Regions from separate parts of the Homo sapiens genome. Here region 1 is linked to region 2. Evidence: fine-mapped expression QTL. A gene starts in region 2. The other region holds a variant in brackets. All regions are shown on one strand. Distances are from middle to middle. Region 1 has its middle 29 kb from the start of SERP2. Region 2 holds the start of SERP2 (stress associated endoplasmic reticulum protein family member 2).

What was found. PIP is the estimated chance that this variant, and not a neighbour inherited with it, causes the effect.
Region 1: its variant is the best candidate, but not a certain one, in a credible set for the expression of SERP2 in whole blood (INTERVAL, PIP 0.80).

Annotation. Positions count from the first base shown.
Region 1 is chr13:44,342,440-44,346,835 of GRCh38, reverse strand. No RefSeq gene overlaps it. Among named protein-coding and RNA genes, the nearest start is that of SERP2, 29 kb to the left of the region's middle. The variant C/T (reference allele first, on the strand shown) is at 1,907.
Region 2 is chr13:44,371,196-44,375,591 of GRCh38, reverse strand. It overlaps SERP2 (stress associated endoplasmic reticulum protein family member 2), which reads right to left and starts at 1,768. Exons shown (of 3, transcript NM_001010897.3): 1 at 1,483-1,768. The coding sequence starts at 1,566. It overlaps LOC105370297 (a long non-coding RNA gene), which reads left to right and starts at 2,026. Exons shown (of 2, transcript XR_001749858.3): 1 at 2,026-2,195; 2 at 2,395-4,396.

The DNA.
Region 1 (4,396 bases), 29 kb after region 2:
TATTTATTCATTCATTCATAAAATGTTTATTAGGCCTTTTTATGTACCTGACACATTTATATTACACCTACTAGTTATAAAACCCCATGGAGTCAATATTATTATCTCCATTTTACAGATGTAGAAATGAAGCTCAGTGAGGTTACATAATTTGCATGAGAACACCCACTTGGTAAGTGACAGAGGAAGAATTTAAACCTATGTTGTTCTGACTTCCAACTTCTAGTAAAAATGTAGGCTGTGTTGTGGAAGGAGGGGAGAGCTAATATTTCTTTAGTACCTATTATGCCCCAGGCACAACCTGATATACTTTATTGACAAACTTTCTTCAAATTAGATTAAATTGTGACCTCTCAGAAAAGCAAAAATGAAAGAAATACAAAATTGTTTCCATAAGATAAAACTATAGTGCTCAAACAAGAAGAAGGAGGACTAGTTCTTTCTAAAACTTGTATGGAAATGCAAAGGACCTAAAATTGCCAAAATAATTTTGGAAAAAGAAGAACAAAGTTGGAGGACTTACACTATCTGATTTCAAAAGTTGTTTTAAAGCCACAATAATTAGATACAAAAGGATAGACATATAGGTCAATGGTAAAGACTAGAGTCCGGAAATAAATTCTCACATTTGTGGTTAATCGAATTTTGAAAAGGGTGCAAAGAACAAAAGGGTAGCCTTTTTAACAATGGGGGAAAGAAGAGACTTTTCAAAAATGGTGCAGGAACAATTGGATGTCTGTATACACAAACAAACAACAGCAACAATAATAAAGTGTTTAGATTTTTACCTCACACCATATGTAAAATATAACTCAAAATATACCATAGATCTGCATGTAAGAACAAAAGCTATGAATCTACTCAACAAAATCAGTAGAAAAATCTTTGTGAGCTTAGGTTGGGCCAAAGTTTCTAAGATGTGAGTTGCATAAAAGAAAAAATAGATGTTAGCCTTTATCAAAATTATGAACTTCTGCTCTTTTAATGACATTGTTAGGAGAATGGAAAGACAAGCCACAGACTGGGAGAAAAGATTTGCAAATCATTTATCTTTGATAACGGACTTGTATCTAAAATACATAAAGAATGCTTATGACTCAATAATATGACAAGTCAATAATAAGCAAAATGTGTAAACAATTTAAACATATTTACCAAAGAAGATACATGAATGGAAAAACAAAAACACATGAATAGATGCTTGTCATTAATCATTAGGGAAATGCATACAAAGCCACAGTGAGATACCAGTACATATCCACTAGAATGTCTATAATCAAAAAGATGGTCAATACCAAGTGTTGGAGAGAATATGGAGACACTGGAGCTCTCATATGTTGTTGGTAAGAATGTAAAGATGGTAGTTTCTTTGGAAAGCAGTTTTGTAGTTTTAAAAAACTTAAATTTACTGTAGAACCCGGCAGTCCTACTTCTAGGAATCTAGTAAAAAGACATGAAAGTACATAGCCACACAAAGACTTGTATATAAATGCTTATAGCAGCTTTATTCAATAATAACCCCAAAGTGTCAACTGATGACAAACAAAATGTGGCATATTCATACTGTGGAATACTACCCAGCAAGGAAAAGGAATGAAATATTAAAACATGCAAAAACATAGATAAAACTCAGAAACATTATACAAAGTGAAAGAAGTCAGATACAAATGACTGCACATCGTGTGATTCAATTTACATGAAGTTTCTAGAAAAGGCAAACCTGTTGGCTGGGTGTGGTGGCTCATGCCTGTAATCCGAGCACTTTGGGAGGCCAAGGTCGATTACGAGGTCAGGAGTTCAAGATCAGCCTGGCCAAGATGGTGAAACCCCGTCTCTACTAAAAATACAAAAATTAGCCAGGTGTGGTGGCAGGTGCCTGTAATCCCAGCTACTTGGGAGGCTGAGG[C/T]GGGAGAATCGCTTGAACCCGGGAGGTGGAGATTGCAACGAGCCGAGATCACGCCAATGCACTCCAGCCTGGGTGACAGAGTGAGACTCTGTCTCAGAAAAAAAAAAAAATGAAAAGGCAAACCTGTAGCTTGAGGTTGAGTATGGGGATTAACTGCAAACAGGTATGAGGAAGTTTTCTGGGGTGTAGAAAATGTGCTCAACCTGGATAGGGGTGATGCTTATACAGATGGCTTAGTTTACTAAAATTAATCAAACTCCACACCTGAAATAGGCGAATTTTATGGTATCTAAATTATACCTCAATAAAGCACTTATAAAATGCATTGCATTTAACCAGCCATCTTATTCTGTCTGATATAGCTTTCCCTCCAATACTTGACATGTCAGGCACTTACGACATTTTGGATTAGTAGTCGTGTAGGAACATATTTGCAAGTGTGTTGCTACTTGTTGTTGCCTTCCAATTGCTTCCCTTAGGAATGTTCTAAACTATGGAAGGAAAAGGATGTACATAGATACTGCAGAGTTCTACAAAAGATGATTTCTTAAGAGACACATTTGGATAATTGGAGGAGAAATCACTCAAGTAAGCAACTAAACTCTTCAATGTTCGTATTTTTATAATGGAAAAGAGTGCTATTAGGTTCACATTTGCCAAGAATTGAGTCAATGCCTTTTGCACTTATAGGGTCTATTGACACAGTAGAGAAGGCTGTTCTTTGCACCTCTGATTCAGGGAGTGAAGACCTGTTTTCCACCAACTGTTACAGAAGAAACTTATGCAACAGAAAATTCAATGTCCATGCTCTGGGAAGCTTATGAAGAAACTAGTAGATTCTTGAACAACAATAACAACAATAACAGTAATAAGACATCACCAGTTGCTGAGGTGGTACTTCTGTCTGGGTTCTGGCCCCATAGTTTTTGTTCCAGAGGATAAAAGAGGTGTCCCTCAACCGCCTTTCTTTGCAGCCCTCCCTCTGAGGGCAAAAAAATGATCCCAAAGAACAAATTTGATCCTGTCACTCCTCTGCTTAAACCTTTCAGACAATCCTACTCAATAATCTATTGCAATTTCCTCAAACTTTAGTCAAAATATATATATTTTTGCCTTATCCCAGTGCCATTTATACACTTTCTACTTAAAGCGTGCTCTTTGGACCACCCTCATGGGCAGCATCTGGGAGCTTACCACAAATGCGGAGTCTCAGGCTCCACCCCGACCTCCCCTCAACAGAATCTGCATTTAAACAAGATACTCAGATGGTGTGTATGCATATTAAAGGTTGAAGGACACAGTCCTACACTTTCTAGATATATATTTTTTAATTGGCATTCTTCTAAAAATGCAAACAAATCTCTTTAAAGACAACTATATCACTAATACAAGTGAAAAGCCAGTGCCATTTTCTATAAATAGCATATTATCTATAAAAGTAAATACAATAAACATAAAACAACGTGCCAGGAAAAATTATGAAAGACATTAAAATGGGCAAAAAATAAGGTTACTGGGTATCTTGTCTATTGCACCCTTCTGGGTTATTTGTTCTTTTAATTGTTCTTGAGCTATTTATAAGACTTTAAGTTATAGAAAACTTATGTGTAAATAGACTTACACAATACACATCTTACCAATAGGAGAGCCAATGAGTTTTAGCTGATGGAATGGAATTGCTTACTGCTCTGTTGATATTGATCAGTTTTGCCTCTATTGGTAAATTCATCTCAGCATTCCTTATCTGCCTCTTTATGTGTGTGTTACTTGAATTCTCCTTTGAACTGGTTGTAACATCTTACTTGTTCACTCATTAATAAGTTAAATAAAATCATTAACACATGTTCATTTTATATTTGTATGAAAGTTATGATTTTATCTTTTAAAAATTATCCTTTGACAAACATAATTTTCAACTGTAGCTAGATACTGATGCCTTCCAACAATTCTAAGCCTGAGGCCAATCTTTGTCTGATAAAGATGGAGATGAGCACATTTTTCATAGGTACTTATTCATTCAGCAAATATCTTTTGAACATCTGCTGTGTCCTGAACATTGTTCACTTTAACAGTTGGGAATTATTCAGGTGTGAAAAAAATGTTAAAAATTCCTGGCCTTAATGAGCGTATATTCTGGTAGGGATAGATACATACTAAACAAAATAAAATTGAAAATTATGTAGTATACTAATTGATGATAAATGCTATTGGGAAAAATAAGTCAAGGATGGAGTTATGAAGGGGATTCAATTTTATGTAACTGGTGTCAGGGAGGGCATCCCCGGGAAGACGACATGTGAACCAAGACTTGAAGAAAATAGGGGTGTGAACCACAGGTATCCTGGGAAGGGCGTTCCAGGCAGAGAGAATGGAAAGCGCAAAGGTCCTGAGTAGGAATGCGCTTGTTGGGTTCAAAGACTAGGAAGGAGGCTAATGTGACTCTAGTAGAATGCATGAGGGAAGGAGACAAAATGAGCTCAGAGATGTCAT
Region 2 (4,396 bases):
TAAAACCCTGCATGCCTTAACATCAATTATAAGTTGCTTCTCAATGTCAACCCGGGCAGCCATTTTTTTTTCCTCAGTAAAAATAGGGAAAACATAAATCAATGTGACAAAATGGTTCCAATTTGATGGCATCTTGGCATTTTGCTGCCTAATCACAACTGAGTGATATAATTCCTAAATGAGAGAATTTTAAGGATTACTTAGGTCTTGTGTATAAAGCTCTGAGTAGAGTTGAGTTATGCTTAGACTTGTGTATAAAGCTCTGAGTAGAGTTGAGTTTGGTCCTAGAGTTTCTCTGCCGTAATACTGCTTGGTTTTGCAAGAATTCTGGTGTGATGATTACAGATCTAGCTTTTTGCTTAGTTAATCAAACCAATATAGTTTCTTTGGCTAAAAGGAATTGATTCATCAAATCTGCAAGCTTTCCCAGCCAAACTCCAGGCTTCAGCTGGATTTCCACTTAACTGTACGGGGTAACAGATCCCAGGCGCCTTTGCTCATATACTTGGAGACCAACTTCGCCAAACTACCCATGCGACTCATGCCTCTGAATGTCCAAAGTCACAGGCCTCGCATTTTCTGTTGATGATAATCTGCTTTGCTAAAAGAAACTCCTGAGTGTAAGGCACAGGTTTTACTTAAAAGTCCAGTTGCAAAGCTTGAATTTACAGTTCTAGGGACACCGAATGCCTGACAATAAACTGGTCTCTAAAGTTATACCATGAGAATGAGTCTGAATTCACCAAGTGGAAAGAATAGGAATGCTGCCCTTAGACTTTAGCCTAGGGGCTGAGGGAGGTCTCGCTGGAAGAGAGGTAAAAGAGAAAAAAGAGGCTGGAGGGAATGTGGGTCCAAATCTCACTCCCCATTTTGAGCTCTTTCCACACCTCCAGTGAAACCGTCACAAAGGGGCTGGAAAGAAAACTTGATCCTGGTGCAAGTCTGTTGGGGAGGGAAGACAGGTGGAGTCCGGGAGGAGATGACAAGTGGCCTCCATTTAGCCATTGATTCATTCATTCATTCAACAAACGTTCTAGAACATACTAGGTTCCAGGCTCTGTGTCATGCAACGTTCTAGAACATACTAGGTTCCAGGCTCTGTGTCATGCAGTTGACTTAACTGGCCCCTAAGGATGAGGCTTTCCGTCTTTCTCCGGGACAAGGCCCAGCTGTCTCCCGGGCAGGGGGACAGGGGGTGCGGGTCGGGGAGGAGGGCTCCTCTGCGCCTCCCTGGTAGCCCAGGTAGCCACTCCCAGAGGGGCCACGACCAACCAGGGCCCTCTCCGCCCACGAGGACGCCAAGCAGACCGCGCCGCCCTGAACCCAGCTCTCAGCCCCCACTCTGCAGGACCCCGCAGAAGGGGCGGGCCGGGAGCCGGGAGGCCGGACCCTGCGCCGCTACCCGCCCGGCCCCGCCCCCACCTTCCGCCCCACCCCGCCGGGCTGCAGGGCTCTGCCTGGCCGGCGCCGACCCCGCCTTACCAGGGTTTTGGCTACGTTCCCCCTCTGGGTGATGTTTTTGCTGTGCTTCTCGTTAGCCATCCGGATCCGCTGTTTGGCCACCATGGCTTGTGCGCTCTGAAATGCTCCCACCTGCAAGGATTCCCCCTGCGTTAGCTCCTGCGACAGGGCCGAGCGCGTCCCGCCGAGGCCCCCGCGGCCCACCCGGGCGCTGCAGGTGGCAAGGCGTGGCCCCGAGCCCTGCGCACCCCGCTCCCCGAGCCCCGGCTAGCCGACTCCAGAGAGAGGCCGCAGCCCGGACGGAAGTAATCTCTCATCTCAGGAAACCCTTTCCGACTTCCTCGCCATCCTTCCGGTCCCCGCAGCCACCTACCCCGCGCGGCCACCGAGGCAGGCGCGACCGCACGTCCTCCCGCGCCGAGCGGCCGGAGCGCAGCGCGCAGAGCCGGGGCCCTGCAGTGTCGCGGTCCTGTAGCCGAATGCTGCGGGGCCGAAGGTTCGGGCGACCACGGCGTTTGTGAGCGCGTCGGGGACGGGGACGCGGCCCCTCCTGTGTTTGTCGGCCGGTGACCCACCCCAGCCCCGGGGAAGGGATGAGGGCGGCCGCGCTTCAGGCCGGGCCGCGCGGTCTCCCCTGCACCGCCGCCCCCTGGACGAGGGCTGGACCCAAGGCGGTGGTCAGGGACCTCAGAACACAAGTAGAACCAGTCCAGGCCCGGGCCCGCGCTGCCCGGGTATGGTCCACCAAACGAGCCTTCTCTTTAAGGGTCTCGAGAAGGGCCCCACGCTGGGGGACCCCACTGCAGAACTTTTCGTGAGGGCTGCAAGGAGGGCCGCGTTGTAAAATAAAGAGGAGACACGAAGCGGCATCCCCTGAGGGTTGGGGATCGGGCCGTGAGGATGGAGTTGGGACAGGCCTTTTTGCTTTGGTAGTTGTAGGGGTTGCATTGGAAGATGGGCCAGCGGCAGAGCGGAGCATGCAGGAAAGAGGAAGAGGCCTTGGACCTGCAGCCCAGGTCGGATTTGGTGGTTACTGTCTAAATCTGAAGCTTTGGCCTGCCTTGACTCCCCACCCACCCAGGGCAGCTTGGACCTCTCTCTAGCCACCCTTGTCCCGAGGGGTCTGAGTGTCTCCCAGACTAAACTGGGCATTTTCTGCAGTGGAAGGATAAAAATGGAAGCGTTTACGCGCCTCCCAGACACTGGTATTAGGGCTCAAGAGCTCTACAGATTGCCTGGGGAGGTAGGGGTGGAAGGGGTTCAGTTCCTCACTTGGAGTTAGCTCTTAGAAGCTCAGAAGAGTGGAGGCGAAGAGGGGACATTCAGCCTGGGAGATCTGGGGCAGCGGGAAGTGGGGATACCGGGTCGGGGTGAAGGCAAGCAGCAGCACCCCCAGCATGGGGAAGAAGGCCTGAGGCTGTCTCTGGCCACTGCATCTCTAGGCCTTCTCTTGGAGCGGGAGGTGGCTGGGTTTCCAGGGAATTTTGTGTGAGTAAAATTTTCCCATGTCATTGGAGAGTTAGGAAGAGCTCCTCTTTTGGGGCCTTTTTCCAAGCGGGTCCCCCTCACCCCGCTACAGGCTTCTTGTCACTCAGGCTTCAATAAAGGCCATTCTGGGGGCTGCTTGCTGTAACCTAGAAGACAGAATTGCCTAGGATCATTAGTAGAGTCATTTTTTTTTTTTCCTACTCTACAGGCCAATTAATTTGAAACAAGCTTCTATGGTCTTTTAACTGTTAGCATCACCACTGTTGTAACAGGACCATAAACCCAGTCTGCCCCACTCTAGTCCCATGTTTTTAATAACTGTTGGCTCTTTTTTAGGGGTTTGGGTGGGGGGATTCCTACCTCAGTGATCCCTGCTGAGCCTGGCTGTTGTCTGTGGTCCAGAAGGTTCCTTTACCTGACTCACTCCTCTCAGATCATGTCCAAATACCAGGAGACTGACCCAGGTCCTCACCAGGTGAGTAGAGGTCTGGCTCTGAGCGACATTAAGGAAAAGACACAGACAGAGACTGTTTTCTCTTTGGGTCTTCACATTCAGTGAGTACAGTTCAGAAGTGTTCTTAACTGAGAGAAGCCCCTTTTGGGGAAAATTTTTCTTTACTGTTGACTCCTTTTTCCTGCTATGCTTCACTTTTCCGGCATTTTAAATTAGTTTGTTTTAATTATGAGTAGACTACATCTACACAGTAAATAGTCAAACAGAAATAGGATAGAAAATGAAAAGTAAAGGTCTCTCTTTCCTTGCCACCCTCCCCAAAAAGTTCCCACGGTTCCTGGGTTGCCCTTCCAGTATATACAAGACTATTTGTATATTCCCTTCTAAAAAAAAACGGAATAGTAGTATGCAAACTGTTCTGCCACGTGCTCTTCTAACTTAATATATCAACATTATCATATCACTTATATATGACCTCTTTCTTGTAGTTGTGTTATGTCTCATAGTATGATTATACAGTAATATATTGAACTGATGTAACCATGGATGATTATTTCCAGTTTTTCTTTTTTTGTGGTTGCCAACAATGCTTCAGTGAATATCCCTGTACATAGATCAGTGTGTACTTGTGCAGGTATATCTGCGTGTGATATTGTGAAATATATATTTGATTGTAGTCCCTGTTTCCTGACCTAAAACTCTTAAATTCCTTGGACTCTCCAGAGTGATGAAAATATCTTACCTTTTGTATGCTAATGAGATGGTTGGTGACTTGGAGACCCTAGATAGCTTCAGGATGGGGACTGGTCACCAGAAAGATCAAGGCAGGATTAGAGGGTTGGGACTTTTAGTCCCACCCTGTCCCCCCAGACCTCCACAGAGAGGAGAGGGGCTGAAAGTTAAGTTGATCACCAGTGACCAATGATGTAATCAATCAGACATATGCAATGAAGCCTGTATAAAAGCCCAAAGGATAGGGTTTGTTGAGTTCTG